Regions from separate parts of the Homo sapiens genome. Here region 1 is linked to region 2. The links come from fine-mapping of genetic effects on gene expression. A gene starts in region 2. The other region holds a variant in brackets. All regions are shown on one strand. Distances are from middle to middle. Region 1 overlaps CLCN1 (chloride voltage-gated channel 1). Region 2 holds the start of CLCN1 (chloride voltage-gated channel 1).

The links.
Region 1: its variant is fine-mapped to the expression of CLCN1 in whole blood (INTERVAL, PIP 0.98).

The regions. Positions count from the first base shown.
Region 1 is chr7:143,339,741-143,349,930 of GRCh38, reverse strand. It overlaps CLCN1 (chloride voltage-gated channel 1), which reads right to left. Exons shown (of 23, transcript NM_000083.3): 15 at 7,789-8,002; 16 at 7,426-7,559; 17 at 4,169-4,410; 18 at 3,680-3,791; 19 at 3,273-3,352; 20 at 2,982-3,020. Among named protein-coding and RNA genes, the nearest start is that of FAM131B-AS1, 17 kb to the left of the region's middle. RefSeq lists silencers at 4,335-4,414, 4,221-4,515. The variant T/C (reference allele first, on the strand shown) is at 4,041.
Region 2 is chr7:143,308,112-143,321,050 of GRCh38, reverse strand. It overlaps CLCN1 (chloride voltage-gated channel 1), which reads right to left and starts at 4,940. Exons shown (of 23, transcript NM_000083.3): 1 at 4,659-4,940; 2 at 1,176-1,296; 3 at 256-387. The coding sequence starts at 4,838. It also overlaps the pseudogene HINT1P1.

The DNA.
Region 1 (10,190 bases), 30 kb before region 2:
TCCCTGCAGTGTACGTATTTCCTGACTCTCCCAATCAGATGTGCTTCTCCCCTTTTTTATTCCCATAGTATTAGCTGGTCTCACCTTTTCAGAAATGACATTGGCCATACTTCCTGCTGTATTGGCATCTGTCTTACCTCTGCATTTGTCTTGAGTGTTATGTGGTATCGGCTGCTGTATATTGTGAAGAAACTAGCACATCACCTCTCATGCAGGGAACTGTAGTGGGTACTTGTTGAAATTGAAGAGCTATACTGGACCTCATGGCACTTAGCTGACTTGAGCAAAGCCAGTTTTTGTTTGTTTGTTTTTGTCTATGACAGAAGCATTAAGGCACAAAGGCCAACCATCCTCTTGACTTTAGATACGCACACCAAAATTCCCAAGAGTCCAAATAATCCATTACATCTCTGGCTCTCTTACATTTTTCTAAAATTTCTAAAATCTCTTTTCAGTCAGTATCCTCTGAATGATCTAGAACTCTATTTTCCTATTTGTCCAAATCTACACCTCTCAAACTTCAGAGAATATCACCAAAGGGCATTATATAGGTTTAGGATCTGGTGTGTAGCCCGTAGTGATGCTCACTCCACCTGTCCTGTCCTGATATTTCTGGATTACAATCATGACTCCTCTATACTCTCATCTTCCGGACTAATGGATTACAGAGGTTACATAGCATAGGATGGATGACCACTTAGCAGGTGTGTTGTAGAGAAGATTTAGGTATAGGACGGGGGCTAGACCTTGCCAACCATGGTTTGGTCCATCCCGTCCTCTTGGTCTTTTCTATGATCATCTGTGGCCTTATGTTCCGTTTTTGCCTTTCCTTAACAATAACGCGGCAACATTTTCAGTGAATGATTATCAAGTACATCCTCTTTGCCAAGCATTATTCTAATTGACTTACCCGTCTTAGCTCATTTAATCTTCTCTAATAACTCTATCATTATCTTCACTTTATAGATGAGGAAACAGAGGCACAGCATGTTGAAGTCATTTGCCCAGGATTACACAGTCAGTAATTGGTGGAGCTGGGCTTCTAACCTTGACTGCTGTTTGTATTCCAGGTACATCTCCAGCTTTTGCGCAAGGGATGCAGGACGTTGCTGTTGAGGCTGGTGTGTTCCACTACTTGAATAAGCTCGGTACCGGTTAGAAACAGAGCTCTGTGTGTACTCCAGAGTATGCAGAATTAAACAAATCCTAGTAGGGACTTCTGGCAACATATAATTGAATCTTTCAATATTCCCATACTGCCCCCATACTGTTTTTTTGGTCAATATCAACATCTTGATATTGTCAAGGGTATCATCTGGTCTGAAAATTGTGTTCAAAACATCCTGAATTTCAACTCCTGTTAGATCTTATCCCTCTAAAATGTCTCAGTGGGTCACATGGGAGTTGGTAGCTCCTTAAAGTCTTCCCTGGGAAAGACATAAGCTAGAAATGATAGTCTATCTTATTTTTAATCCCTGGCTTCACTTTATTTCCAGTGGTCATTCAATAGCCACACTGATCAACTAGCTGGTTTTCTCTCTTTGGTGCATTAAATTAAAAAAAAGAAAAAAAGCAAAACTTATTGTTATTGGTTTTAGCAACCTAACAAAGTACTCCTTAACTGCAATTATGGCCTTTCTGATTCCTGCTTGTGGGCAGAAGGAATAGTTCTTCCTTTCCCTCTGTGATCATCGATTTGACTTTTTCACAAGTCATTTATCAGAAGTGTGTGTGTTTTGAGGGGGTGGGGAAGGTTTCTCTTCTGTCTTGTCACTCACAACATCCTCCTCCAATCCTGTAATGCTTTTCATTGTCAGCACATATTTATTCTGGATATCCAATAAGATGTTCATTTAAAAATAATATCTGCCGTGTTTTTTTTGTCAGCTTCATACTTTACAAGCTTTACGTTTTCGGCGTTTGCAGCAAACTCTGCATTCTTTTACCATATGGAATAGTTGCCAATGGATTTTTCTGTTGATGTTCCTCCACAACCCCTCGGTATGTTCTGATACCGCCTGCTTCCAATCACTAGTCCACATTCTGTTCCCTCCTGACAACCAAGCACATTCAGAATGCTTGATTTTTCTCTCTTGAAGATTTGATAACCACCTCGTTTAGGAAAATAGGCATTTGTTTGTCCCCAGGAGGCACCGTGGTCATTATTTTCTTCCTTTTTCAGTTCTTCCCAGTAGCAATGCCTAGCATTTTCCAGTTGTTCACTGTCTCAGGGCCCTGATCAATCCAGCACAGTAATCTCCACCAGGAGCAGATTTCTCCATTTTAGTTTTTTTTTTTTTTTTTTTTTTTGAGGCAAAGTCTGGATCTGTCACCCAGGCTGGAGTGCAGTGGTGCAGTCTCTGCTCACTGCAACCCCCACCTCCCGGGTTCAAGTGATTTTCGTGCCTCAGCCTCCCAAATATCTGGGATTACAGGTGCGTGCCACCATGCCCGGCTTATTTTTGTATTTTTAGTAGAAATGGAGTTTCACCACGTTGGCCAGGCTGGTCTCAAACTCCTGACCTCAGGTGATCTGCCTGCCTTGGCCTCCCAAAGTGCTGGAATTACAGGCATGAGCCACCATGCCCGGCCTCCCATTTTAGTTTTGATGTTCTTCTTCTATGTTGCTGTTTTAGTGCCAGCCTCCTGGTGCCATTTTACCTCCATTAAAGCTTTGCCTGATCCAGAAAGCCCATAATCTCTAAAAGATCTGGGGCTCATCTTAGCACCATGGCCCCATTTACTCATGGAGGCTCAAAGTTTTTCTCTTCTGAAATGACGTGTCCTTCTGAGAACACCTCCATGTCCCATCACACACTCATTACTCTCTCCATAATCATCCTTATTTCCATCCTCTCAAAACACTTCCCATCCAGACCACATTCTATTTCATGACAACACAATAAAGAAGGTAGAAACAAATTAGCAATATCTTCATTTGATAGAACAATCCACCCCAGGTTTCCATTTCCCTTACTCACCTCTTCAGGTGACATGTTATCCACTAAATCTGTGGAATCCTAGAGAAGAAAGACATAGGTCCAAGTTCTTTCCCTTTTCTTCCCATGGTAGCTATGGCTCCCAATGAAACAATAGCCATCCCTCCCTGGCCAGGACCACCGATGCCTCCTTTTCATTCATCATCCCTTCCATATGATTAAACTCCTCCTCCTTGGTGGGGTCTCTGCCTTCCTGATTTAAGAACCGTGGGTTTCTCACTCTTCAAGGGCAGGCTCCCTTTCCCCTGTATCCCCAAACACATCTCCTCTCACCTGGGTTGTTTTCTTCTTTGTGGGGCGAGCTCTGCCCAGCAAGCAGTGAAGCAGGGACTGGAAGATGGAGGGTCTTTGACCTGAGAGGACAGGTGAGTGGATGGAAATGGACACAAAGCAACAGGAAACGGCCAGGGGCCCCACCCAGTGCCTAACATTTGCCTCCAAAGAGCTGCACTTCCCAGGTACCTCACCCTCTCTTCTACCCTCCTAAATCACCCTCTGCTCCCACTCCCTGGGACAGTAACAAGGAGAATTGATGAATAAGAACCCTGTCCTCCCTCAATCCCCCAGCCTCACCCCCCACCCCACCCCGCATAGGAATTGCATGCAGGTCAAGGTCAGGTCCTAGTGACCAGAGAGAACCCACAAGGGGTGAGTTGGGGTGCATGAGGGAAGAGCGTCACCTGCAGGCTCTGGTGCTTCCGGCTGCTGTTTGTGGCCAGGCAGAGGCCCATTGGGCTCTTCTGGGGACAGAGGGGCAGTAGTAGAGGGGTGGAGAGCAAGGGAAGGAGGAAGCTGTAAGGAAGAGTAAGAAGTCTCAGCCTGGGAGCAGAGACTGCCTGGGCCTTCACTGCCTTTACCAGTTGGTGGATGTTCTGGGAAAGCGAACTCTATTCTTCCCCCCAGTTCAGAAATTCCTATATCCCTTTGAATTGTCGAGGATACCATCATCTGCAACCTTATCTTCTTTAGTCCCTGGACCCAGAGGCACTGGTCTCTATGGTACCTGATCCAGAATTTCTGGCTTTCTCAGTTACCAGACTC[T/C]CCCCTCCCTCTTCCCACTACTTTCAGGGAAACTACGCCTGTCCCAGCCCAGCCCAGCCCAGCCCAGACGACGCTTTTCCCTTTGCTCCTGATCTATCCCACTCCCTAGCCCTTCCCGGCGCGGTCACCTCGCTCTTGCCAGAGAGGTCTTCGTCCTCATCCTCATCCACAAAGGCGAAGGACTCGGGCCGGCCTGGAGGCGCGCCGGGGAGCCCCTCCCCAGCCAGCCGCGCCTTCCCGTCGTAAGGCAGCTCCGACAACTTCCGCGCCATCTCTTGGGCTGCGCGCAGCCTGCGCTCAGGACACAGGTGGCGCTGCAGGAGGGCCTGCAGTTCCGACCGCTCCACCGAGCCCAGCAGGATCATTGAATCTGAGGGAAACCCACGCCCTGCCTGAGCGCCCCCTCCAAGCCCTCTCGCACCACCGCGCTCCGCACTCCTGAGAAGGAACAGGAGAGGCGCCACCCTGCCCGGCGTCCCCACATCTTTCTCAGCTTCCTGGAAACTCATTTTAAGAATCCTCCAAGATTAACCTCACTCAATCCCTTTTATTTCATCCATTTAGCAGGTACGGGGCCAATTGGTAGAGCACTAATTGGGCTAATTTGTACTTATTTTGATGAGGCCTTATATAGACTTCAGATAGGTGAGCTGATAATTAAGGAGGCTAATCAATGCTGTCCAAATAAAAAGAAACATGAGAAGCCATTCAAATAAGCTGAGACGTGAACACGCTTTGAAAGAAGTCTATAAGCAATACAAACATTATATCTCTCCCTGGAAAAAGGGAAACAAGGGAACTCTTTCTTTTGTATCTGACATTTCATCATTTAAAAAACCTGGGCCAGGCGGTGGCTCACGCCTGTAATCCCACTACTTTGGAAGGCCGAGGCAGGCGGGTCGCCTGAGGTCAGGAGTTCGAGACCAGCCTTGGCCAACATGGTGAAACCCCGTCTCTACCAAAAATAAAAAAATTAGCTGGGCGTGGTGGCAGGCGCCTGTAATCCCAGCTACTTGGGAGGCTGAGGCAGGAGAATCGCTTGAACCCGGGAGGCAGAGGTTGCAGTGAGCTGAGATCGCACCACTGCACTCCAACCTGGGCGACAAGAGCGAGATTTCATTAAAAAAAAAAAAAAAAAACCCTGCTAGGATAAATCAAAATGCCTACTTTTCCTGAGAAGGTCTTTTATATGATTATAGAAATTTTGCTACTATAGTTAACATTTTTATTAAGTTTTAAGGCCAAGACATTGCAGCAGTGCTCTGGAGATGAATTTTACTGTTAGGTCTCAGTCATTATTATGAAAACCTTGCCCCTCATTTGTTGGCTGTACCCCTCCTCTAATAAAGAGCCTCTGCTGTAGAACGTGGAATGTATATGAGATTTGGGAAAATATTTGAATTAATTTAATTTGAGAAATTTGGATATTCTGATTATTGGAAATCAGAACTAACAATCTTAATGACTCCAAATGGCCCTACATGATTTTTCTTTATTACACTAATTCAAACACTAGGAAATTATTCATTTAATATCTAGTAGATACCTATAACAAGGCACTCTGGGTATATAGAATTCATAGCCTCTATTCTCAAGGAATGCCCACCTAGTTAGGAAGACAAGATATAGATATATAAACCACAATAAGAAATCATACAAAGCAGGATGAAGTGTCAAATGATGGTGAAGGCAGAGAAATGTGAAATTATCGTTTACTAACAACCATTCACTCCTCCATGTGAAACAGTTCCAGCCGGGCACAGTGGCTCATGCCTGTAATCCCAGCACTTTGGGAGGCCAAGGCTGGTGGATCGCCTGAGGTCAGGAGTTCGAGACCAGCCTGGCCAACATGGTGAAACCCCGTCTCTACTAAAAATACAAAATTAGCTGGGCATGGTGGTGCATTCCTGTAATCCCAGCTACTCAGGAGCCTAAGGCAGGAGAATCACTTAGAACCCAGGAGACAGAGGTTGCAGTGAGCCAAGATGGCGCCATTGCACTCCTGCCTGGGCAACAGAGTGAGGCTCTGTCGAAAAGAAAGAAGAGAAAAGAAAAGAAAAGAGAGAGAGAGAAAGAGAGAGGGAAAGAGGGAGGGAGAGAGAAAGAGAGAGAGAGGGAAAGAGGGAGGGAGAGAGAGAGAAAGAGAAAGAAAGAAAAAGAAGGAAAGAAAGAAAGAGAAAGAAAGGAAGGAAGAAAGAAAACAGTTCCAACTCTTCCATAAGTTGGGCATTAAAGAACAAGCATGACTTATGTAAGCATCAAAATGGAACAACGTAAGAAGCTATGGGATTTACATTAATTGTCATTATTCATGGATTCCCTATTTGTGAATTCAGCTAGTCACTAAAATATATTTGTAACACAAAACCAATACTAGAGGTGCTTTCACTGTAATTCACAAACATGCAAAGAGCAACAAAGATTTTTAGTTGTCCCATGTCCCTGTTCCCAGCTGAAGTTGAACAAAGCAGTGCTGTACCTTCTTGTTTCAGCTTTCACATTGTAAACAGGTGTTCATTTTGTAGTCTATTTAGTGCCATCCTTTTTGCATTTTTGTGCTTTGTGTTGGTGATTTTGCTGCTAAAAATGACCACCAAATATAATGTCAAAGTGCTGTTTACTGTTCCTAGTGCAAGAAGGCTGTGATGAGCCTTATTGAGAAAATATGTGTGTTAAGTAAGCTTAATTCAGGCAAGGGTTATAGTGCTGTTGGCACAAGTTCAATATTAATTAATCCACAATATCTGTGAAATAAGGTGTCTTTACCAGAAACACACATACAACAAGGTCATATATTGATTGGTTGATGGAAATGTGACCAGAGACTCACAGGAACACAGCCCTGTATTTTTCCTAGGAGCAATTATTCAGTATAGTATTTGAACTTCATACTTAATTGAACATAACTACCATGAATTATGAGAATTGACTGTATTTAGTGGGAAATTTTTTTTTTTTTAACAGAGTTTCATTCTTGTTGCCCAGGCTGCAGTGCAATGACACGTTCTCGGCTCATCGCAACCTCCGTCTCCCGGGTTCTAATTACAGGCATGCACCACCACACCTAGCTAATTTTGTATTTTTAGTAGAGACAGGGTTTCTCCATGTTGGTCAGGCTGGTCTCGAACTCCTGACCTCAGGTGATCTGCCCACCTCGGCCTCCCAAAGTGCTGGGATTACAGGCATGAGCCACCATGCCAGGACCTTTTAATTGCATTTTTAACTGTCTTTGTGTGCTTGTGTTATGGCTTAATTTTTCCTTCCTTGTACATAGCACATTGGATGGCCCCTAAAGACAAAGCCCCCACCATGGGGCCTCCTCTACCTCTATGTGACCCTTATTCAGGTCACTAGCTCTGGAGTCGACTTCTTCCTCCCCACTGACCTTTTGAGTCAACCAGTGGTAAAGTCTTGACTGTGGTGGTCTGGAGCAGGGTTCGCAACTCCCCATATGTGTAAGAAGCTGAAACAAACTTCACATCACGTACCATGATGTCCTCAACAAAGATGGTATATTTGCTATGGAGGGAGAAAGCATGGTGGGTTAGCCCCACCGTATACCTATCCCTTCCATTCCTCCCATAAGATTTGCCATACTTTCAGTCACTCACAATATCTACTAGGTGCATGAGAATATAATAATAATTTAAAACAGTGTTTCCAAACTTTAACTCTAAGCTCAGTCTCAGCCTCAGAACCTCCCACTCTCCCCATCAGATCTGAACTAATTCCGTCTAGTGCCCCTGACCTGAGCTGGTTCCAGCCAAGGTCAGGCAAGTAGGGTAGCTTCTTGACCTGGATGATGCTGTCATAGAGAGAGGGCTGCAGGCTCTGGGCCACCATGTTGGCCAAGATAACAGCCACCATCATGGGCAGGATGTGAGCAATCTGACCCGTTAATTCGAAGCAAATCACAGCTGTGGAGACTGTGTGGGAAACGGCACCAGTCAGCGCTGCTGCTCCTAGAATGACACAGGAATACGCCTGTAGGTTAGGGCTACCGTTCTTAGCATGAAGGACATATGGGGATGGGATGGGAATAACACGGAATGAGAGACATGACCCTGGTCAGTGCCAATACTCATAATGACTTGTCAAGAGTAGGGAATAGAATACTGAACTCTTAGAAAAATCATCATTTTGATCTCATTCTATAAACTTCACCAAGTTACAAAATCTTTGTGTGTGCCAAAATTTTCATTTATAATATGAAGATAGTGATGTCCTATCCATTCCTTGCTTTTAAAAGTTTGGATGATTATTCACTGAGCATTTTATTTTATTATTTTTTAAAATTATTATTATTATTATTATTATTAATTATTATTATTTGAGGCAGAGTCTCACTCTGTCACCTAGGCTGGAGTGCAGTGGTACAATCTCGGTTCATGGGAACCTCCACCTCCCAGGTTCAAGTGATTCTCCTGCCTCAGTCTTCCGAGTAGCCAGGACTACAGGCATGCACCAACACACATGTCTAATTTTTGTATTTTTAGTAGAAACAGGGTTTTGTCATGTTGGCCAGGCTGGTCTCGAATTCCTGGCCTCAAGTGATCTGCCTGCCTCGGCCTCCCAAAGTGCTGAGATCACAGGCATGAGCCACTGTATCAGGCCTCTTCACTGAGCATTTTACAACTCAGTTATAACATTTTTTTTTTTTACCTTGGGCTTTAGGTATTAATGCCAACAATTAGTGAGTAAATAGAATGAAAACCCGAGAATCATACTGTGGACATGCAGCAATGAGACCTGTGTCAGATCCTGCTCTTACTATTTCTCAATGGAATGAGTAGAGCTTAATTCCTCTGGAATCCCATGCTCTCAATTATAAAGCGAAAGGGGTCATTTAGATGATTTCTAAGGCGCTTGTAGATCTGAAACTTTATAATTCTATAAGCTCCCTGAAGATAGAATCTATCTTGTTAATTTTTGGTTGTTTCTCCACTAACCAAAATAGTCCTTTGTGCTTTAATTATATTTCTTATTTAAATATGGAAGAGGTATCCTATGGGGAAAATGTAGAGGAAGGCACATATGAAAATGTAACAAGAAAAAGTCAGCCGGGCATGGTGGCTTATGCCTGTAATCCTAGCACTCTGGGAGGCCGAGACAGGTGGATGACTTGAGGCCAGGAGTTTGAGACCAGCCTGGCCAATATGGTGAAACCCCATCTCTACTAAAATTACAAAAATTAGCCAGACATGATGGCATGTGCCTGTAATCCCAGCTACTTGGGAGGCTGAGGCAGGAGAATCACTTGAGCCCAGGAGGCAGAGGTTGCAGTGAACCCAGATTGCGCCACTGCACTCCTGGGCAACAGAGCAAGACTCTGGAAATAAAAGAAGAGAAGAGAAGGAGAAGGAGAAGAGAGAAAAGAAGGAAGGAAGGGAGAAAGAAAGGGAGAGAGCAACCAAGAAAGCATCACAGAAGGGAAATATAGGGAGGAATGACACTATTGGATATTGCATATAACATACTTCAGAACATAAACAATCACAGGACGTGCATACAAGGAAATGTTCACAAGGGAGGCATGTGTACCAGGGAGTCATGAAGATGGAGAACAAGAGTCTATGACCCTCATTGATGAAAGAGGCTTTTAGAAAGAAACTATGTCAGGGGAGCAGCGTACCAAGTGAGCTAGAAAGCTGGTCAGCACTTCTCTATGTAGGGAAGGCATGGCCTTAGATGCTATGGGATTTTGCTGAGGAAGGGAGGAAGCATAATAATCCCAGGATTCTATTGGTGTTAGGCATAGCTCTATCTCAGAAGTCATTTTAGAATAAAGAAACTAGGGCTCAGAAGCAGCTATCTTGCTTCATGGTGACTGGTAACAAGTGGCAGGAGAAGTCTAGAGCCATGTTTCTTAGCTCTTAGTCCTGTGCTCTTAACTACCCATCAATATCAACACGTCTCAGGTTGAGTCAATCACCTGCAACCTGAGCCAATCACCTGCATTGTTGGTTCCATGATTCTTGGGAAGGAAAGACAGAACCCTTATCAAACATCCAGACACAATCCTAGAATCTTATGATCTCATTTGATCCCTATGATCCTTTTCTACATGAGGAAACTAAGGCTCACGGAAGTTCAGTAAGAAATAATGAGAGTCAGAGCCATGGGTATGTTATCTGAGTAAAAGTTGAGTTA
Region 2 (12,939 bases):
GGGGAACTGGGGCAAGTTGGCCACCCTATTAGAGGGGCATCCACTGCTTGGGTGGCAGTGAGTGGAGGGGCGTGAGAAGTGGAGCAGGCCTGGGTCTGGTCTTTTCTGGGCCTGGAGTCCCACCTGATCCCTCTCTGCGCAATATTCGCTTCCCATAACACACCCTGCTTAACATTCGCTTCCGATAACACACCCTGCTTACCCTAGGTAGAAACTCCAGAAACGGCTGTGGGCAAAGGTCCAGGTTAAACCTACCCTGAAGGCTTTTGGCACTGACGTAGTCCATGCTCCAGCTGACCAGAGCCATCAGCAGTCCCAGAAGCACCAGAAAGATCCCGTCTTCCCCTAATTTTCTTCTCACCACCTGTCCCAGGCGGTGGATACAATCTAGGAAGAGATGAGGGAAAAAACAAACAAACAAACAACAAACAAACAAACAAACAAAAATATATATATGTAGAGACAGAGAGAGAGAGAGAGAGAGAGAGAGAGAGAGAAAAGCAGCTAACGAGTCACTACTTTACTTTGGGTGCTATACCCAAGATGGGAGGGGAAGCCTTGGGCCCCCAGGGTCCGTATGTCTTATGCACTGAGTTTCTCATTACCCCTCTGCTGATTGCTGCTCCGGCCCCTGCAAAAGGCACCAAAGCCCAGTTCCCCATGAATACTTGAATTCCTTCCTAAAACTCATTTCTTGGAGTTGTGGGAGGAATAACAGGGAATAGGCAAAGTGCGAAGGAGGTGAAGAGAGGTGCCTTTTCCTTAATACTTAGAGGGGCCAAGCATGGTGGCTCACGCCTCTAATCCCAGGAATTTGGGAGGCTAAGGCGGGAGGATTGCTTGATGCCAGGAGTTCAAGACCAGCCTCAGCATCCTTACAAAAAAAGTTTTAAAATTAGCTGGGCATGGTGGCATGTGCCTATAGTCTCAGCTACTGGAGAGGCTGAGGCAGGAGGATCACTTGAGCCCAGGAGTTCTAGGCTGCAGTGAGCTATGATCACTCCACTGCACTTCAGTCTGAATGACAGAGTGAGACCCTGTCTCTTAAAAACAATTAGAGGAGAGTTTTTGTAGCAGGGCAGGGAGTACGTACGTGCAATGGGATGCCCAAGTTATTCTCCTAATCCCTGTACCTGTTTCTACTCCAGATTTCTTTATTCCTCAGTCCCCATCACCTTGACATTTAGAATAGTGATCCTCATCCTTGCTGTCCACGGTAGAACTGGAGCCTGTCTTCTTGGGCATCCCTATGTCCTGCTCCCTGTCTGAGAATTGTTCTTTGTGATGGCCATAAATCTGGACAGAGAGAGAATGATCAGTGTCTGCCTTGTGGAAGACTAAAAAAATAATAGACAGAGGCCAGCAGACAGACTCACAGAAGAAAAGAACAACAGCTTTTTGAATTCTGGGTGTTGACTGCATGCAGGGTGACTTTGTGGTCATCCCTGCCCTCTACTCTCCACCCTCCATTCCCACACTTCCCACCCTTTCCCTTGTTCATTCATCCTACCTTCTCTACACCCATTCTCCAACCTGTACTCACCTTGATCCAGGGTAGCCTTTATCAAGGAGGCCAGTTTTTGCTTTGAAGCAGAGGTACAGAACTGTGCTGAACCCAGGTGGCCATATCAATCAGGTGTTTTGTGTCACTGCGCTTTCTGTATGTCCCACAATTTCCCCAGACCACTTGCATTGACTTTTCTCCTAACATGAACAGGGTGAGGACAGACTGGGCTAACTAGCAGGGCAGTCTTGGTTGCACTTTGCCTTGGTGTGTCTAGCCTTACCTGAGGCACCTCAGGTCCTCTATCAAGCTTCAAGACCATCCACTTCATCTCCCAGTGCTTGTATGCACACACAAGAACTAGCCCGAAAAGGCAGGTCCATCTACTTCTTCCCACAGCTAGATAATTAGACCCCTACCTGCCCCACATGTGAAGAGGACAGAGCAGCTCCCCCAGGTCTGGTGGCCCTCCGCTTCCATCCTGAGGCAGAGCACGTGTGTCTGTGTGGGGTATACAAGAGCTCCAACCACTTTTAGCCTGCCCCACTCCCACTACACTAACTGTCCTCTGGGGCCAGGGTCAGGCCAGGCCATGTTGCTGGATTCTGGGAGAGCCTGAGTAGAAGAGATCTGATTTCACAATATGAGCAGCATTTTACACCGCAGTCCTGAACAAGCACGCACATGAATTGCCCTGCTCATGGCTGTTTGTCTTCTGGGTCAGTGACCGAGGGAGGCAGTGTTTCCTTCCAAACCCTGCGTGGGACCCAGAGAGAGAACATACTTCCCAGTGGAAGTCAGACAGCTGAGGCTGTCTCAGCTCCTCAAGGCCCCAGGCCAGTGGAGACAAGGAAGGGGGTTGCTTCATATCATCATACCTGGGCTGGGAAAACACTTAAAGGGCCAGATCTGTTCTGGCTGGTCCCATGCAGGGCAGGGTGAGGGGAGGGCAAGGGAGAAGTCAAAACTCAAGTCTACAAGTGATACAATGTCTGGGATTTGTTAAAAAGTATTCCAAGGTGGAAGCAAGGCTCAGTGGCTCACCCCTGTAACCCCAGCACTTTAGGAGCCTGAGATGGGCAGGTTACCTGAGGTCAGGAGATCAAGACCAGCCTGACCAACATGGAGAAACCTCGTCTCTACTAAAAATACAAAAATTAGCCAGGCATGGTGGCGCATGCCTGTAATCTCAGCTACCTGGGAGGCGGAGGCAGGAGAATTGCTTGAACCAGGGAGGCGGAGATTGCGGTGAGCTGAGATCGCGCCATTGCATTCCAGCCTGGGCAACAAGAGCGAAACTCCATCTCAAAAACAAAAAACAAAAAACAAAAAACAAAAAAAAAGTATTCCATGGTGTGTAGAGTGGTGAGGGTGGGGAAGGGAAGAATAGATGGAACAATAGTGACAAAATATTGACAACTGGTGGGTACTTGGGGCTTCACTATACCATTCCATTTTTGTGTAAGTCTTCCATAATAAAAATTAAACAAAGAAAAACTAATCCAAACTCTTGTTTACTTTTGAGACCTGTAGAAAACAGGCCAATTCTACTCCCCAAACTAACCATAGCTTCCCAACACGAGAACTGTCATCAGGAAGTGCCATAATGGCACTGTTACTCAAGTTGCCATCCCACCCAGATACAACCATGTACACGAGTGAGAACACAGGGCCAGGGGGAGGGGTCTTCCCTCCTGCTGATCCCACACAGTGTTCAAAGGCCTAGTCAGACCCCGCTGTCTCCAAGAAACCTTCCCAATGCTCGATTCCAGCCTACACTGACCTGTATGTCCCTCTTCCCTACTGGGTCCCTAGCGCTGCCTTTGCAAATACTCCTGGGGGTTGGTCAGGGACTGAGAGCAGATCCTTTTGACCCCCAGTGCTGAGATCCCCTGCATAGCTCATGCCTCAGCTTCCCAGCCTTAAACCTAAAGGAACTGAAGGCTCCCTGTTAAAAAAAAAAAAAAGAAAGAAAAAAAAGCCTTTTAAGTTCTGACCAGACTGGGCACAGTGGTTAACACCTGTAATTCCAGCACTTTGGGAGGCCAAGGCGGGTGAATTACCTGAGGTCAGGAGTTCGAGACAGCCTGGCCAACATGGCAAAACCCCGTCTCTACTGAAAGTACAAAAATTTGCCAGGTATGGTGGCAGGTGCTTGTAATCCCAGCTACTCAGGAGGCTGAGGAAAGAGAATTGCTTGAACCCGGGAGGCGGAGGTCGCAGTGAGCCAAGATAGCACCACTGCACTCCAGCCTGGGAGACAGAGCGAGACTCCATCTCAAAAAAAAAAAAAAAAAAAAAAGTTCTGGCCAACTGCCCTCTAGACAAATTCTATCCTCTGTTATTCTCTGCATTCTTTGGAGGGAGAGGCACACTTACTTATTAACCATGACCTATCTTTTTCCATGACAATTTCACAACCTTTCCTTTAGTTGTGCCCATCCCCATTCCCCCTTTCCTAGGTGTTCATATCCCACCAATCCCACAGCGGGAGGCTGCTCATCCATAGACACTCCTAATTAGCCTGCATGCTTCTGTTGCTGGGATCACATCTCTGCCCTTTTCCAGGTGCCTAACACTTAATAGGTTCTTACTTGATCATCTTGCGACCTAAAAGCTTGTACATCTCTGCTCATTTTGACGTTGGTAGATCTTTGATCACTGATAAGCAATTCAGTCTGTTTTCTACACTTGCCCAATTCCTTTCTTCTGCCTTCTGCAGAAAGATTCATGTTTGTGTGTATTCTGCAGAGGGTCCCAGAGGCAGAAATCTGGCAGTGTCTACCTGTGGGTGAGGGTGTGGGAGACAGCTCCCAGCACACTGCAGTGTGGGCTCCTACGCAATCCACTCCACGTAGGTTATGTAAGCACGAGCTATTCATGCATGTGAGGCTCTGCTGTTTCCCCATATGATTTGGGTACTCTGTTGGTAAAGGTTGTATGAAAGTGCATGCATATCTCTCTAAGTGCATACTTAAGTGAGCCCAGACTTTCAAAGATTTTCATATTTTGAACACATCACCACGTACTTGTTTTTTAAGTTAAAAAAATGTAACACTGCTCCCTCTTTTCACCCAATTCCTCATTTTCACCAGTCTCTGGCACCACTGTCTCCCCTCATCCATGGCTCCCCTCTCCCCTTAGAGCACTTTACCTGTGTGGGGTGGACGTTGTGGCGGGGGCCTGCATCCTTCCGGAGCCTGTGCTGGAGGCCCCCATTCTCAGAGGGCAGTCCGTAGCTGGTGCAGTGTTCAAAGGGCATATACTGGTACTGGGGGTCACTACCCCACCAGCTTTGTTCACCCCCACGCTGCTGTGACCGGGATTGCTCCATATTCCCTCCCCCCGAGCCCCGGCCAGGCCTTGGCCTGCTTGCCCCTGTCCTTCCCCCAGTGTAGCTCCTTAAGCCTCTGCTCTTGCTGTCCCCAAGGCGTCTGGGGCAGCATGCCCACCTCCAGCTATTTATAGACCCCTCTCCGTCACATGACCCCCCACTGCCACATCTGATCTGCTTGGGGTCGAAGCAGGTGTGAGTGCAGTGTGGGGGTGGGGGTTGGGATGAGAACCTGAGGGACAGCCCCACAGGGAATTCCCTCTGCTGAGCCAGTGGCATTGTCCCCCTTCTTAGTCACCAGTAGTAGGCTTCCAGCTCCATGTCACTGGTCCCTCTATAAATATCGCCTGGACCAGGATGAGAAACTGCTGAGTATGCTCTCAAACCTATGTGTAGAGCCGGATCTGCATGGAAGCCCTCCAGTTGCCCATCTCTCTTCTTCAGGATGCGGAAGGTGAGGGGTGGGTGCTGGATAAAGATGAAGCGACTCGAAGTTCTGGAAACACTGGCACATTAACTCACCTGGGAAAGTAACTGGTGCCTCTCTGCCACATCTCCTGGCCAGCTTGTTCCCAACTCTGTGTCCACCCAGGGTTCTGTCTGGCCAGCTCTGCCAGCCCATCCCATGTCCAGCGTTCTTCTCTAGCTCTTTGCCCTTCTGTCTGCCAGAGGCTGCTAATAACAGCTTGGGGGCATCCCCTGATCCCATCCTTATCACTCACTGGGTGTGGAACACTTATGGGAAGTGGGAAGTCGAGGGTCGGTAATAGCCTTGGGTTCTAGAATTTCTCCCACTTCCCAGACTGTTAGGTGTCAGCCACACTGCCAACCCGGAGGGACTGAGCTTCCATTTGGACTGTGGAGTGCCCACACTGGCTCCATCAGATAGATAACAAGGGAGATAACAGGGGAGAATCGAAAGTAGAAAGAGGCACAGGGAAGGGAGAGGTGGGAAAGGGGTGAGGGCTTCTCATGACAAGCCCGACAAACATGAAAGATGATGGGGAAGTGCTCTCTGCTATTCTTCCCTTTTCAGGTCAATAAATACTTTTTTGGCCAAGGACAAACTTTTCTTCCTGGCATCACGTTATAAAACCAATTTTCCTATGACATGTCTTCCCTATGAACTCTTCACTGTAGGAGAAAAGATATGAACTGAGCCAAAGTAAAGTTTAGGATGCATTACCAAGTGGGGTCTGTCCCAGGACAGTCCAAGTTCAGGGACTGCAGGGTAGGGACACCAAACATCTGGTCTACAATGTGATTTTGACCTAGGCTAAATGGAACCACCCAAAGCAGGAGGGAAGCCAATATCATTAAAAGTACTTTTTCTAGGGCCTCAACATCATTAATCATCAGGAAACCAAAATCATAATGCAATATCGCCTCATACCTGTTAGGATGGCTATTATCAAAAAAGCAAGAGATAGCCATTATTATGGCTATGGATATTATGGTTCATGCTTATAATCCCAGCAATGTGGGTGACCAAGGCGGGTGGAATGCTTAAGCCCAGCAGTTCGAGACCAACCTGGCAACATGGGGAGACCCTGTCTCTATAAAAATTATAAAAATCAGCCATGTGTGGTGGTGCACGCCTGTAGTCCCAGCTACTTGGGAGGCTGAGACAGGAGGATCACTGAAGCCCGGGAGGTGGAGGCTGCAGTGAGCTGGGAAGGCACCACTGCAATCCATCCTGGTCTACAGAGTGAGATTATGTCTCAAAAAAAAATTAAATAAAAAGATGAGATAAATGTTAGTGAGAATGCAGAGAAAAGGGAACCCTTGTGCACTGTTGGTGGGAATGTAAACTGGTATAGTCATTATGAAAAACAGTATAAAAGTTCCTCAAAAGGTAAAAACAGAACTGCCATATGACTCAGCAACTCCCATACATCCAAGGGAAAGGAAATCAGTATCTCAAAGAGGTATCTGCACTCCCATGTTCATTACAGCATTATTCACAATAGCCTAGAAATGGAAACAACCTAAGTGTCCACTAACAGATGAATAATGTCATGTGTATATAAATATATATAATGGAATACTATTCAACCCTGACAAAGAAGAAAATCCTGCCACTTGTGACAACATGGATGAACTTGGAGGACATTACGCTAAGTCAAACATTGCAGACACAGAAAGAAAAATACTGCATGATTGCACTTGTATGTGGAATCTAAAATAGTCAAACTCATAGAAGCAGAAAGTAGAGGGTAGTTGCCAGGGGCTGGGCTGGAGTAGGGGGTGGGAGAATGGGGAAATTTGGTCAAAGGATACAAGGTTCACTTATACAAGATGAGAAAGTCCTGGAGATCTAATGTGCATGGTAACTATAGGTAGTAATACCACATACTTGAAATTTGCTAAGAGGGTAGATCTTGAATGTTCTCACCTCCCTGCACCCCCAAAGCAACTATGTGAGGTGATGGATATGTTAACCGGCTTGATTGTGATGATCATTCACAATGTACACATATATCAACACATCAAGTTGTACATTGTTGGAGGCCGCACAAATGTTTCTTATGATTAGGTACAATTGAAGCTTGTCAGTAACAATATGAACCTGTGATCAATTCAGCAGCTGACCAATCGTTACCTCCTTCTTGTTCTTGTTACCCAGTAAATATGAAGGGCTGAGAAGCTCGGCAGGGGAGCTGCCTTTGCTCACTAGAAGCAGGGAGCTCTCTTCTTCTTCATGTTGCCTTTCCTTAAAACAGTTTCTTTTGTCTTAAGTTTTCATTTCTACATTCGTCCCTTTGTTCGGTCATAATGATGGTTTCAAGTGGTAACAGTAGTAACTGCTGTAATCACGGTCTCAAGTAGTAATTAAATATGTATAATTTCTAGTTGTCAATTATACACCAATGTAGCTAAAAAAAAAAAAAAACAAAACACCTGCTCTAACAACAATCCTACAAACCTCAAGGCCTATAATCTCTCCAAAAAATTACAAATGTGTGATGAATTGAGAGACTAAACATTCTGTGATGATACCCACCTTTTCTGCAGGCAGAAAATAAGGATAGACATCTATGGGATTGGTATGAGCAGAAAGGATTACTTTCTTAACAAAGAAAATAGAATCTGTGGGTTCCTCCCTCCTTCTGAGCCTCTACCCTGCCTGCTGTGTGGGAGACAGGCAGAGATGGCAGGTGAGATCGCCAAGGCTCAGGTCGCTCGGCCTGGTGGCAACACTGTCTTCGGGAAGATCATCTGCAAGGAAATCCCAGCCAAAATCATTTTTGAGGATGACCAGTGCCTTGCTTTCCATGACACTTCCCCTCAAGCACCAACACGTTTTCTGTTGATATCGAAAAAACATATATCCCAGATTTCTGCAGCAGAAGATAATGACGAAAGTCTTCTTGGACACTTAATGATTGTTGGCAAGAAATGTGCTGCTGATTTGGGCCTGAATAAGGGTTATCAAATGGTGGTGAATAAAGGTTCAGATGGTGGACAGTCTGTCTGTCAAGTTCATCTCCATGTTCTTGGAGGTTGGCAGATGCATTGGCCTCCTGGTTAAGCACATTTTGGTGATAATTTTCCCTTCTCTGGGCAATGATTAAGTTAGGCAAGTTCCAGTATGTTAAGTAGCACACTTATTTTTTGCCTGTGTATGGAGAGATTCAAGAAATAATTTTAAAACCGCATACATAATAAAAGACATTGTTGCACACACAAAAAAATAGAGTGCCAAGGTAACACTGCATTCCTTGGAGGACTTCAGAAACAAGATTCTCCCATTTGAGGAGTATAGCTTTCCTGAAAGTGATCAGTTGCTGTAGAAACTTGATAAATATAAGCAGCAAGATATGAGATACAATTATGACTTTCTTACTATTTCTGAGAAAGACAGGGCCCTAAAACAGAGCAGCCTAGTCATGGACTCTGAGATTTGAAGGCAGAGACCAGTGGAGTAGGGAAGTGCTCACATCCAGCCAAGCTGAGTGGAAGCGTGTGGTCTAGAAGGAAAGCACCAACTGCGATTCTTAAAACCAGATTCTGAAATTAGGAGGGTCAAAGACATGTACAGACTGCCAGTGCTGGTGGGCAAGGGTTTGAGAGTAAATATCCTGTGTTTGAAATTAGGAATAGTTTAAATCCCATGGGTTTAAATCCCTGCAAGAGAACAAGAAAAGAAAATGTAAACCATGCCCACTCCTCACTCCATCATCCCGCTGGGCTTAGTAGCTTAGGTTCTTATTTGGAGGCACAAAGATGGGCTTCTAGGGATTCCTGTAAGGCTCCTGAATGTGGAAGCAAATTCATAAGCATGCATAAATGATATATATTCTTTCGGGTTTTATTTATTTTATTTATTTATTTTTTGAGATGGTGTCTCACTGTCACCCAGGCTGGAGTGCAATGGCGCGATCTCTGCTCACTGCAACCTCCGTCTCCCGGGTTTGAGCGATTCTGTCACCTCAGCCTCCCGAGTAGCTGGGATTACAGGCACTTACGGTCATGCCCGGCTAATTTTTGTATTTTTGTAGAGATGGGTTTCTCACCATGTTGGCCAGGCTGGTCTTGAACTCCTGACCTCAGGTAATCTGCCCGCTTTGGCCTCCCAAAGTGTTGGGATTACAGGTGTAAGCCACTGCACCCGGCCTCTTTTGGGGTTTTAAATAGATCATCCTAGGGTCCATTATACAAAAAGTTTAAAAGCCCATAGGCTTATAGAATTGCTATTTGAAGGAAAATCGTAAAAAGTTGCCATGCAAGATACATGGAGGAGAAGTTTTGTGTTGGGTATAGGTGAAAGAATTTTCTTTCTGGGTTACACCCTTGTTTTCAGACTCTCACGTCTTCCAGTCTGGCCTCCCCAGCATAGTGGGCAGTAAAACCCTTATGTTCTTTAAAGGTGTTTTCAGTCATCACTTTCCCTCTGCATATCCAGGCAGCCATGGAACCCGTGGCCACCTACTTTCTGAAATTTCAGCTAAGCTACAACTTCCTCTGAAGACACTTTGTATTGTATGCCACTGGCGGTCATGTCTCCTCTCCTCTTTATTGTGGCTTGCCTCCTTATTCTTTTTTATTTTTTTTTTTTGAGACGGAGTCTCGCTCTGTCGCCCAGGCTGGAGTGCAGTGGCGCGATCTCGGCTCACTGCAAGCTCCGCCTCCCGGGTTCACGCCATTCTCCTGCCTCAGCCTCCGGAGTAGCTGGGACTACAGGCGCCCGCCACCACGCCCAGCTAATTTTTTGTATGTTTTAGTAGAGATGGGGTTTCACCGTGTTAGTCAGGATGGTCTAGATCTCCTGACCTCATGATCCGCCCGCCTCGGACTCCCAAAGTGCTGGGATTACAGGCGTGAGCCACCACGCCCAGCCAGCCTCCTTATTCTTTAAGCATCCTTAGTCCTTTCCCATCCCCTGCACGTCAGGCTTTCCCTGTAGTATTCGACAGGTCTCCTTCTCCCCCTTCTGGCTTTTCAAACATGATACATTTTCCCCCAAACTCCTACCTAATTAGGACTTAAGATGGAATAAGGTTTGGGTCTCAGTTTCATTCCCACAGCCCAATGGGAGGAATCTTACAGCCCAAAAAAAGGAAGAAAAAAATCCTTCATGCCAGAATAAGTCACAGAAGCAAGGCTGTTAGCATACGCTCAAACTGACAGCTTTGGTTTCACATCCTGACCTCAGTTTCCTCAGAAAGGAAGTAACTAGAGGGTTAAGAAGATAAAATAACACATGCAAAAAAACATGCTATAGGCTGGGTGCGGTGGCTCACACCTGTAATCTCAGCACTTTGGGAGGCCAAGGTGGGTGGATAACGAGGTCAAGAGATTGAGACCATCCTGGCCAACATGGTGAAATCCCGTCTGTGCTTAAAATACAAAAATTAGCTGGGCGTGGTGGCGTGCGCCTGTAATCCCAGCTACTCGGGAGGCTGAGGTAGGAGAATCACTTGAACCCGGGAGACGGAGATTGCAGTGAGCCGAGATCACACCACTGCACTCCAGCCTCACGACAGAGTGAGACCCCATCTCAAAACAAAACAAAAATGTGCTATAGTGTTTGATTCATAGTAAGAACTGTTCACTCATATTAAACTGAAGCTCATTCTGTGAGTTAACATTTATCAAGCATTTTTTATGCATTAACACCATGTGATTTACATGCATCATCACATTTAATCCTCATAGGGACATTGGAAGGTAGACACAATTTTCCTCATTTTCAAATAAGGGAAATTGGGGCTGTGTTAGCTACCTTGATCAAGGTCTCCAATATCTTCAAAGGCAGAGCCGGCATTCAAAATCAGATCTACTGAATTCTAGAGTCCATACCGTTAAAGCTACATTTGTGGCCAGGCGCGGTGGCTCACTCACGCCTATAATCCCAGCACTTTGGGAGGCTGAGGTGGGTGAATCACCTGAGCTCAGGAGTTCAAGACCAGCCTGGGCAACATGGTGAAATCCCATCTCTACTAAAAATACAAAAATTAGCTGGGTGTGGTGGCGTGTGCCTGTAATCACAGCTACTCGGGAGGCTGAGACAGGAGAATCGCTTGAACCTGGGAGGCAGACGTTGCAGTGAGCTGAGATCACGCCATTGTACTCCAGCCTGGGCAACAACAGCAAAATTGTTTCAAAAACAAAAGGGAAAATGACTCCTTCACAGAAGCATGGGGAAGATGAAATGGAAAGCTCCTCTCAATGCCTACAACATACCAAGGACTCAAACAGTTGTAGCTATTATTAATGTCTTCCTCCTTCTCAGATTAGACGTCTTTCCTCTTGTGTTGTGTGTGTGTTTTTTTTTTTTTTTTTTTAAAGATGGGGGTCTCACTATGTTGCCTAGGCTGGTTTTCAACTCCTGGGCTCAAGCAATCCTCTCTCCTTAGCCTCTTGAGTAGCTGGTACTATACGTATGTGTTACTGTGCCTGGCCTCATTCTTTATTTTTTAGAGACGGGGTTTTGCCATTTTGCCCAGGCTGGTCCCAAACTCTTGAGCCCAGGTGATCCACCTGCCTCAGCTTCCCAAAGTGCTGGGATTACAGGCATGAGCCACTGCGCCCGGCCAGTCTGGCACCATTCTTAATATCACAGCTTTGGTTGGGTGTGGTGGCTCATGTCTGTGATCCCAGTACTCTGGGAGGCCGAGGTAGGAGGATCACTTGAACCCAGATGTTTGAAACCAGTGTGAACAACATAGTGAGACCTCATCTCTATTTTATAGAATAAAATTTTAAAAATTAAAAAAAAATCAGCTTTGGTCTGATATTACAGTTTTTCCTTCTTCCTGTTTTCCTTTTCCCTATTAGAGGAAACAGGATGGAGGAGGGCAGCAGAGGGCAGCCCCCAGCTCTGGGAGGGGAATAATTTTAGAAGAGAATCCTCTGGCAGAGGTAAGCAGAAGGGAGCAGAGCTGTGAAATTCAACCTCATACCCTTATTCAAGGGCAAGGGGGTTGGGGGGCGGGGAGGACATGGAATCCAGTTCAGAGATACTGCTCTGTAATTCTCAAACATATCACACCACTGAAAATGCTTCCTATCCTGAAAATGGGTATTTATCTTACTTCCACTATTTCCATAATTTCTTCGCCTGTCCTAGATTTTGTATCCTTCCCTTGAGGCTATCCCATGGTTGTTTTTCTTGCAGTACAACCAACCAGTTTCAGTCCATTTTTCATGCCCTTTTGTCTCCAGTGTTCTGTACCAAATTCTGCTCTATCTGCCGAGGTGCTTCAGCTCACCTCAATCCCCTTCTGCTCTTCCTAGACTGCCATACCCTTCTCTGTATGACTCAACAATATTTCCAGCTCCCACAGCTGTTTCCTACCAAACAAAAAAGTTTTGTTTCTGGTTTGTTATAGGTGGCTCATACCTATAATCCTAGCACTTTGGGAGGCCGAAGCGGGCTGATCACTTGAGGCCAGGAGTTAGAGACCAGCCTGGCCAACATGGTGAAATCCCGTATTTAAAAAAAAAAGTTTTGTTTCCTACCAAAACTTCTGTACAAAGTTCCTACAGAACATTCCATCTCTTGCCAAATTCCATGGCCCATCTGCACCTGCACTTACCTCTCAGGCATATCCTTTAGATACAATGCACCCCCAAAATATCCCAACTTACACAAATT